Linked DNA regions of Homo sapiens. The protein of the gene in region 1 purifies or fractionates together with the protein of each later gene. This does not show direct contact. Each region holds a gene or a part of one and is shown on either strand. Other genes may lie near its edges.

Region 1 (5,552 bases):
CAGTGGAGATTTTATCATGAGTAGCAGAGTAGTTGCTAAGAGAGCAAGTGTGCTCAGGGCTGCATTCTTTAATATGCTGAAGCACCATGGTTCCTTTCTCCTCATTTTGGAAGTGGGATTATGTTTTTCTGTCTATTCACTGGCATGTCTCAAGCATGATTTTTAATGATGCTGTCCATATCAGCTAATTAAACAAATAGCAGATACCAAGTTCCAGTATTTTCCTTCTTCTGCGGAGAAGCCATTTTTCTCTGCCTTATAGATCATGATGAGGATATTATAAAATAATTTTGTATTCTGCCAGTATAGAGCTGAGTTACTAGGTTGACAATTAGGTAACCACGTAGTGTAATTGGAAGTCTTGAGCTGGGTGTCAAATCAGTGATGGATTCAAGTCCTGGCTCTGCCTCCTAACTAACTGTCTAGCCTTGGGAAAGTCATTTACCTTCTCTGAGCGTGAAATCCCTCATCAGGAACAAAAATAACCCCATTGAAGGGCTTTTCAGAAGACTAGAATTAACACATGTGATCCTGCACAGTGATACCTTCTAGGCCTTCAATAAATAGAAACTTTATGGCCATCCAGCCAGGGACTTGCCAGCCATCCTCCCAGGTCCTCACTGAGGCAGTTTTGAAATTCAAGGTGGAACTTGGAGGGAGGTATATAGGAAGGCCCAGACCATTTTAGGGTAGAAATGTTGGCTCCAGGAGGAAAATAGCACACCCTCTTTGTTGATAAGCGCTGACAAAGGGCTTCCCTACCAGAGATGTTGGTGGCCTGCATACAGCACAGCAGTTGTGGCCTTATTGATGAGGATAAGGTTTCCTGCTTGGCTGCAGAATTACTGGAGGGCAGAACCTAGGCCTTGGTGTTGGGCAAGGCTCCCTGGATGATCTTTTTTTTTTTTGAGATGGAGTCTCGCTCTGTCGCCCAGGCTGGAGTGCGGTGGTGCAATCTCGGCTCACTGCCAGCTCCACCTCCCGCGTTCACACCATTATCCTGCCTCAGCCTCCCGAGTAGCTGGGACTACAGGTGCCCGCCACCAAGCCCGGCTAATTTTTTGTATTTTTAGTAGAGATGGGGTTTCACCGTGTTAGCCAGGATGATCTCCATCTCCTGACCTCGTGTTCTGCCCGCCTAGGCCTCCCAAAGTGCTGGGATTACAGGCGTGTGCCACCACGCCCAGCCCCTGGATGATCTTAATGAGCATCCAAGGCTGAGAGCTACTGAGCCAGTGTGGCCGAGCAAGGCAGCCCAGTGGTACAGACTACAGGCACCAGAGCCCACCAGATGTGGATTCCTTACCCTTGAACTACAAGACCTTGGACAAGGTTCTTAACCTCTCTGAATCCTAGTTACTCATCTGAAAAATGGGGATATGAGCAGTATCGGTCTCATAATCCCCAGGGCTACTGGGGATTAAATGAGATAATACTTCTGCGGTACTTGGCTCAGTTCCTACTACCCAGTATTATTATTATTACTATTGGAGCTAATCCTGATAACATTATCACCATTATCTATCACTTCTATCCCTCCTGCTTGCCACGTAGCTTCTTCCTTATCATCTAGTTTTTAGTATCAGCAATAAAACATGTTAGTTGCCTTCAAGTCCAACAAGACCATTAAAAAGGAAATCAGCATGGCAAATGTTAGCCAGCTGTTATTCCTTTTATAAATTGAGCCCGCATTTTCTCCCTCACTTGGACCTCACTTGCACAAGGTAAGTGAGGAAGATGAAGTAATCTTTATTTTCTAATTATTTCCCAAAGTAGTGTCTGTGTTCTGGTTGATTGCTCTCCAAATAAAAAGACCTGGCTTCAATTTAGAGGCGCACTGTTGAGATCAGCTTCTTAGAGCAGCCCTGGGTGGTAGGAAGCTGGGTTCCCCGAGGGCTCTCTCTGAAAAGCTTCTACTCTTAGAGACCACCACTGTTCTCATTGGGAGGTCCCCTGATTAAAATGCAGGGGGTCCCAAAGCCCTGCCAGATCTAGGGCGCCCATGCTCTCTGCTCAGCCACTGCATTTAACCAGCTGACGAGGGAGCTGGAGGACTATGTGGGGGACTGGCCATTTCCTTGGGTAATATTTGTAAAGCTGGTATGAACTACTTCACAAATGGAAGACAGAAATACAACCCTTCTTTTATTCTTAAATTAAAAATACACTCAAGCCCATACATGCTAAATTAGCAGAAGATTTATCAGTTCCTCTTGGGATTCCTCATCCCTTCTCCCCAAATTCTCCAATAACACCCAAAGACTTACACTGCCCAAAGCGCAATATTTGGAGGGGCGATGAGCTTCACATCCATGCCTTAGAAGGGAGAGCCTGCTATGGCTTCCCACTGCCACAGAAGGCCCTGTTGATAGCTGGTCCTACCCATCAGACAGAAGGTGCTGGTTCTCTGCTGATCCAGGCCTTGAGGAGTCTCCAAGGCAGCTAATCCCCGTCCTGTGCTAGGCTTGACTAAGGGCACCTTCTTTTGAGTTCCTAGGTAGTGTGGCTTTTGGCACCTGGTTCCTTCAGTCCCACAGGCCCACAACTCTAGGAATGTTCTTAAGAATGAGTGTAGCAGCTGGGCATGATGGCTCATGCCTGTGATCCCAGCACTTTGGGAGGCTGAGGCAGGCGGATCACTTGAGGTCAAGAGTTCGAGACCAGCCTGGCCAACATGGTGAAACCCTATCTCTACTAAAAATACAAAAATTAGCCGGGCATCATGGCATGCACCTGTAATCCCAGTTACTCAGGAGGCTGAGGCAGGAGAATTGCTTGAGCCTAGGAGGCAGAGGTTGCAGTGAGCTGAGATCGAGCCACTGCACTCCAGCCCAGGTGACAGAGCCAGACTCCATCTCAAAATAAAAATAATGAGTGTAACACTTGGGCCCTTGTGAGACCTTGGTCCTGCTGGACATGTCTGTCCCTAGGACAGGGATTCCTTTTTCTATGCAACCCTTCACATATCAAGGATCTCACTTTATTCTCTGTCTTGAACACCAGGGCTTTCTTCACTCTTCCATAAGGAACCTACCTTTAGGCAGTGGTCTCATGGTAGATATGTAATTAGCTTTGGAGGGGGGTCCTGATTTCTAGCATTTGCCAATTTCCGTGATGTACATACTCCCATCAGGGCCAGTTTCAAGCTACCAACTTGCCATCTTTTGTCACAGTGTTGTGAAGAGATGCCCCAATTGATTCTTACAGGCTGGCATGAGCTGGAGCAACCATTGCCTTTGGGGCTTCCAAGTTGGTTTGTCTTCCTCGAGTCATCCTGGTAGATTTCTGCACCTGTCACCCCAGAACAGAAGTAGAAGAAAAATCCAAGTTGATTTTCCACACATCTCCCTATATTTGGTTCTCATTTGTCTTCATGCATTGATTGGCTTCATAAGCATCATAAAGTAGGCATTGGCGAAGGCAATCTTGACATGCCTGGAACAGAAGTTAAGGCACAAAAGAGATACCTAATCCTGTCTTGTCCTTTTGGATGGTGAGGCTTTCTACCAGGTTAAATTCAGAGAAGTGGAAAATAAGGCTTTTAATTGTTGAAAATTGAAACTTTTATTTGTAAATAAATTTCTTTAAAACATCGCATACTATACAATATAAAAAGAGAGCTTTCCCTGAATTGTCTTTTCATATGTGGCTTTATTCTTTTTTTTTTTTGAGACAGAGTCTTGCTATGTCACCAGGGTGGAGTGCAATGGCACGATCTTGGCTCACTGCAACCTCCACCTCCCGGGTTCAAGCCATTCTCCTACCTCAGCCTCCCAAGTAGCTGGGACTACAGGCACACGCCACGACGCCCAGCTAATTGTTCGTATTTTTAGTAGAGATGGGGTTTCACCATGTTGGCCAGTATGGTCTCGATCTTTTGACCTCGTGATCCACCCACCTCAGCCTCCCAAAGTGCTGGGATTACAAGCGTGAGCCACCACACCCAGCCTGTGGCTTTATTCTTATGACATTTTAAATTCATACTTATAGCTCTCTCAAAAGCTGATGGAAAACTGCATTAAAATTTAAAAAGAAACCAATTGATGAATTTCATTTCTTTCTTAGGTGCAAGGGAGCAGCCAAGAGAGAGACAGACACGATGGATACCTTTGTTGATTCTGCTTGGTACTACTTCAGATACACTGACCCTCATAATCCACACAGGTAAAACGTCCCTGCTGATGTCTTTGAGCATTTGTCAGTGTGGCTCCTCCTAGAAGCAAAGACCAAGATGGAATTAGACATGCAAGAGATTTCTTGGGGGGAAATGCCTGTGCAGATTAAAGGGGAGAAGAGGAGGAGTGGGCAGAGAGTGCTCTTAGACCACGATGGAGCTGTGACAGGTGTGAAAGGAGAAGGGAAAGGAAGGAGGATCAGGTGGAGGAGCCTCAGCCCACAGCACAACTCTGAGAAAGCCTCGACCTGGCCAGTGGGAAGGCCCAAGCAAAGCTTGTCCATTAGAGTCTTACAGTCAGGCTAAAATGGCTCTGCTCCAGCCCCTCCCTCTACTCTCCTGGGAGCAGCCTGGGAGAGCAACATGGGCTGGCAGGAACACACCAGAGTGGGTCCACAGATGCAGCAGCTGGAAGCTGTCAGTCAACTGTGCACCTCGGAACAGGCTCTCTTAAAGGGAGAGTGCTACATCATTAAGTTAGATTATTCACAGCCAAGTAAATCCCAAGTACAACACAAATACAAAACGGAAAAAGAAGGAAATGCTACTGTGATACCCTCCTTGCAGTGAACTGCATTTGTATGATTGTAAAGATGTAATGTTATTTATTTAACTGAAAAGAATAATGTAACTCTACAGAGAAGGTAGCAGGTAGGGAGGGTGAGACCGCTAAGAAGCCTCACCTCTTACTACATAGTAGATCATTTCCTAAATTGATAAATCAATAAAGAGTATAAACATGTTTTTTTTTTTCAATAATTGCTGGGAGAAACAACCAAAAGAATTAAAAGTGGCTAAGAGACAGGCCTGAGGCAAGGAAAGAATTGGGGCTGGAGACCACTGTTTTTCATTGTAAATCTTTCAGTACCATTTTGATTTTTAAGCTGTATTCATGTGTTTATTTGAACCCCGCCCCCCCCAAAAAAAGAAACAAATTAAGGAAAAGAGAGCAGTAGGTAGCCTTATAAAGAGAGAGAATGAGAACCGAAAGAAACTCTTCCAGAGCCCAGGAAAAAACACAGCATTGTGCTTAAAAGGGCCTTGCCTAATTGCTCTTGTCCATGGCAGAAACATTCTGGAACCCTGTTGCCTACATATAAAATATGCCTCCCTATTCTTCGTGGTTCTAAAATAATATCTTTCTAGTGAGACAGATACTCCTGCCCTCACCCTGCCAGAATTTCAACCTGCAGTGTTGTGATTCTGTAATTTGAGTTCATATCAGATATAAGGGGGATCCTTGTCAGGCATGGTGGCTCACGCCTGTAATTCCAGCGCTTTGGGAGGCCGAGGCAGGCTGATCACCTGAGGTCAGGAGTTGGAGACCAGCCTGACTAACATGGCAAAACCCCAACTCTACCAAAAATACAAAAATTAG
Region 2 (4,526 bases), on another chromosome or scaffold:
TAAGAATGTTATGTACATTTCAATGTCAATCTGGCAACATGCTTAATTCTTTGATTCACTAATGATATAACTGTCACCTAAAAAATCCTGGAGAAGTGATTAACAATTTTAACCAGCTAGCAAGTTTGCCAAACTGTTCATGAGGGCTTTGTCACCTTTCTTAAGCTGTCTTTGGCTTGCTTCGGATTGCTTTAACAGTACTTAATTTCCTGAGGTACAATCAGCCCAGTAGCTCTCACAAACCAAGTACTGGCCCAGGAGTTGACATCCTAGTTACAGAAGTACATCTAAGTTCCAAGACCCTGGTTTCTTTTTTCTTTTTTTTTTTTTGAGACGGAGTCTCGCTCTGTCGCCCAGGCTGGAGTGCAGTGGCGCAATCTCGGCTCACTGCAAGCTCCACCTCCCGGGTTCACGCCATTCTCCTGCCTCAGCCTCCCGAGTAGCTGGGACTACAGGCGCCCGCCACCACGCCTGCCTAATTTTTTGTATTTTTAGTAGAGATGGGGTTTCACCGTGTTAGCCAGGATGGTCTCGATCTCCCGACCTCATGATCCGCCTGCCTCGGCCTCCCAAAGTGCTGGGATTACAGGCGTGAGCCACCGCGCCTGGCTGCAGACCCTGGTTTCTAATAGCTCTCCTCAAAAGGGCCCAGGGCACCTGGAAGAAATGGCTGATTCCGGGGAAAGGGCAGGAAAAGCATAAGATGAGACTCACGTACCCTGCCATTCCAGAAGGTAAAAAAGTATCCCAAGAATGGCATGAACATGTGGAAATGACAGGGGAGCCTGTCTGACAGGGTTCCCAATGGAACGTTTTGCACATTGTAGTAAATAAGCATAAAGGCTTTCAACCTATGGAATAAAATAATCTAAGTTCACACAGATAAATGAGGGCAAAGGGCAAGCTATTCCTTATGTCAGTAAACCAAGTAATAAACAAACAATAACAAAATTAAAAAATCACCATTTGGCAACTACCAGAATAAATGAATAGACAGGAACTGGTGGTTGCTAAAACTAATGGACGATGAGCAGGATATTTACAAAGTCTCAGAGTATCTTCCCCACAAATGTAACTGTGAAAAGGAAGACAGTAACTTTCCAGTGGAGAAACCTGGCCAATAGCATTTGAAGTCAGCTAACATGGCCAATAATGGCTCAAACTGACAGCATGTGCCTCTGGATAGTATACTCTGATGACAATATAGGCTGGGCGTGGTGGCTCATGTCTGTAATCCCAACTCTTTGGGAGGCCAAGGTGGGAGGATCGCTTGAGCACAGCAATTCAGGGTTGCAGTGACCTACAATTGCACCATTGCACTCTGGCCTGGGTAACAGGGCAAGACCCGGTTTCAAACCAAAACAAAACAAAAAACAGGAATACAACATGTCTGGTGTATTTCTGACAAGCGTATAACTTGATCCTTATTATGGGGCGGGGAGAACCCAAAACAATTCAAATAGAAAAATAAACTACAAAATAAGTGTAAGTGTTCAAGATTAAAGAAAACTAAGGAAACATGACAACCTGATGCAATGCATGACTCTGGACATTTTTTGTCTGAGTTATAGAGAATATTATTGGAACAAACTACTGAATCTAAATGAGGACTAAGACGAGGTGGCAGTATTGTATCAATGTTAATTTCCTGATCTGGACATCTACAGTTAGGTAATATCCTTACTTTACTGCAGTACGTAGGGCAAAGGGGCATATGCGCCTTGCAACTTACCATGCGGTCTAGTAAAAACATACATACAAGGAGAGAAAAGGACAAGGCAAATGTAGTCAGATGGCAATATTTGGGGACTCTGGGTAAAGGGTATATGGGAATTCCTTGCATTATTCTTGCAACTTAAGTATGAAATTGCCAAAATGAACAAAAACTGAACAAAACAAGCCAGCAGCAAAGGATTGGGTAATACTTAACCAAGCAAACAGGCCAACTTTGCATCTCCAGTTACAAAACATTCTCAAACACCATAAAACATCCTATTAATTTGTACTTTGTGATGACACTACAAATAAATTTAGTTTCCTGGTAATTATTTTATTTTTTCGAGACAGAGTCTTGCCCTGTTACCAGGTTGGAGAGCAATCACAGCCCAATCATGGTTCACTGCAACCTCAAATTCCTGGACTCACGTGATCCTCCCACCTCAGTCTCCTGAGTAGCTGGGACTACAGATGCACGCCATCACATCTGACTAATTTTTCTAATTTTTTGGAGAGATGGGGTCTCACTATGTCACCCAGGCTGCTCTCCAACTCCTGGGCTCAAGTCATCCTTCCGCGTCGGTGTCCCAAACTGTTGGGCTTACAGACGAGAGCCATCTCGCACAGCCCCTGATAATTATTTTGAGAGTCTGCTAAGATGGTGAGAGTCACGTCATGTGGAATGTGACTTTTGCTGTATAAGCAGTTTTTAAAAAAAATGTTAAAGTGACAATTCTGTTTTGGCCAAGTGCTGTTTAAAAGGGATGTCATTTTCTCCAAGTCCAAGCAATAGGAGGAGAACTGAGATTACATGAGATATGCTTTCTGGAATTTTAAAGCATTTTGAATTCACACATTACAGCAGTCCCTCTATTTTCAGTTAAAATCTTGATAAAACCCACTGATAAAGTAGTTGAAAATAATTCAAGAAAACTTACCGACCTGCCCTATCAGATATCAAAATGTACTGTAAATTTCTAGAATAAAACTGATTACAAGAAGCAAAACAAAACAACAAATGAGACACAAAAGAGCTAGTATTGCATGGCTCCATTTTACATGAAGTTCTAGAATGGGTAAAACTAATATCTGGTGAAGTAATCACAACAGCGACTTTTATTTTTGCAGGGGCTGGGAGGGGAGACGCACTGGGAGGGGCAGAAGTGATCTTTCTGATGACAAATGTTTCTTTTCTTTTTTTTTGAGACACAGTCTTGCACTGTTGCCCAGGCTGGAGTGCAGCAGCATGATCTCAGCTCACTGCAACCTCCGCCTCCCAGGCTCAAGTGATTCTCCTGCCTCAGTCTCCCGAGTAGCTGGGATTACAGGCATCCGCCACCATGCCCAGCTAATTTTTGTATTTTTAGTAGACGGGGTTTCACCATGTTGGCCAGGCTGGTCTCGAACTCCTGACCTCAGGTGATCTGCCCGCCTCAGCCTCCCAAAGTGCTGGGATTACAGGCATGAGCCACCACGCCCAGCCTAAATGTTTCATGTTTTCATCCCTACCTACCTCACACCACATGCAAAATACATTCTAAATTAATTAAACCTCCAAATGTAAAATGTAAAAATAAAACCATAAATATTATTCTTTCTATATATAACAGAGTTATACATATAGTTTTTTTTTTTTTTGAGACGAAGCTTCACTCGTCGCCCAGGCTGGAGTGCAGTGGCGTGATCTCGGCTCACTGCAACCTCTGCTTCCCGGGTTCAAGCGATTTTCCTGCCTCAGCCTCTCAAGTAGCTAGGATTACAGGCGCTTGCCACCACACCCAGATAATTTTTGTATTTTTAGTAGAGACAGGGTTTCACCATGTTGGCCAGGCTGGTGTTGAACTCCTGACCTCAGGTGATCCACCTGCATCGTGGGATTACGGACGTGTGCCACCGCACCTGGCCTTACAGTCATATTTTTAATAATTTAAAAGCAAAGAAGTCCTTTTAAAGCGTAACATAAAATCTAGAAGCCTAGTGATCAAAATACCACAAGTCGAATCAGATTAAATTGAATGACAGATTAAAACAATAGAAACATTTTATATGAGTCTTTATAACTCAATAAGACAAACAACCCAGCACAGAAATCGGCAAAGGGCATGAAAAGGCCATTCAGACGACACAAATGTCCAATTATCAGAAGAGTATAATCTGTGAAGAAATGCAAACGAAAATCTCACCTGCAGAAAAATGCAGATAAATACAATGAAATACTTTTCTTCTATATAACAGGCAACAAGGTAACAGGCAAACAAGGTAAGTTTGATGTTGAGTTTAGTGAAATAGGCACCGTCACCCATTGTTGGTAGGGTACAACCTGGGACAGCTTTTTGTTTTTGTTTTTGTTTTTGAGACAGCCTCACTCTGTCGCCAAGGCTGGAGTGCAGTGGCACTATCTTGGCTCAATGCAACCTCAGTCTCCCAGGTTCAAGCTATCTTCTTGCCTTAGCCACCTGAGTAGCTTGGATTACAGGCGCCCACCACCACACCTGGCAAATTTCTGTATTTTTAGTAGACGTGGGGTTTTGCCATGTTGGCCAGGCTGATCTTTTGATCCGCCCACCTCAGCCTCCCAAAGTGCTAGGATTACAGGCGTGAGCCACTGAACTTGGCCGGGACAGCTATTTGTAAACTAGCTATGTGAAAATAAAGGGCCATATCCTTGGAGTCTAGAATTCTCCTTTCACTAAGTTATCAAAAATTATATTACTTTGACCACACAAAGGTATTTATCTCTGGTTCGTGCAAACACTGAATGTTGGAAGTACCGAGTGATAATTGGAAATAAAAATCTCCAAACGTCTAGT

The links.
Region 2: the proteins of LARS2 (region 1) and SAFB purify together in Homo sapiens (co-immunoprecipitation; one large-scale study listed by IntAct). This does not show direct contact.

The regions. Positions count from the first base shown.
Region 1 is NC_000003.12:45,492,210-45,497,761, forward strand, and holds part of LARS2 (leucine--tRNA ligase, mitochondrial), read left to right. Parts: intron 1-3,034; exon of another isoform or gene 3,035-3,291; intron 3,292-4,065; coding exon 4,066-4,164; intron 4,165-5,552.
Region 2 is NC_000019.10:5,629,583-5,634,108, reverse strand, and holds part of SAFB (scaffold attachment factor B1), read right to left. Parts: intron 1-4,526. UniProt on the Homo sapiens protein: Binds to scaffold/matrix attachment region (S/MAR) DNA and forms a molecular assembly point to allow the formation of a 'transcriptosomal' complex (consisting of SR proteins and RNA polymerase II) coupling transcription and RNA processing.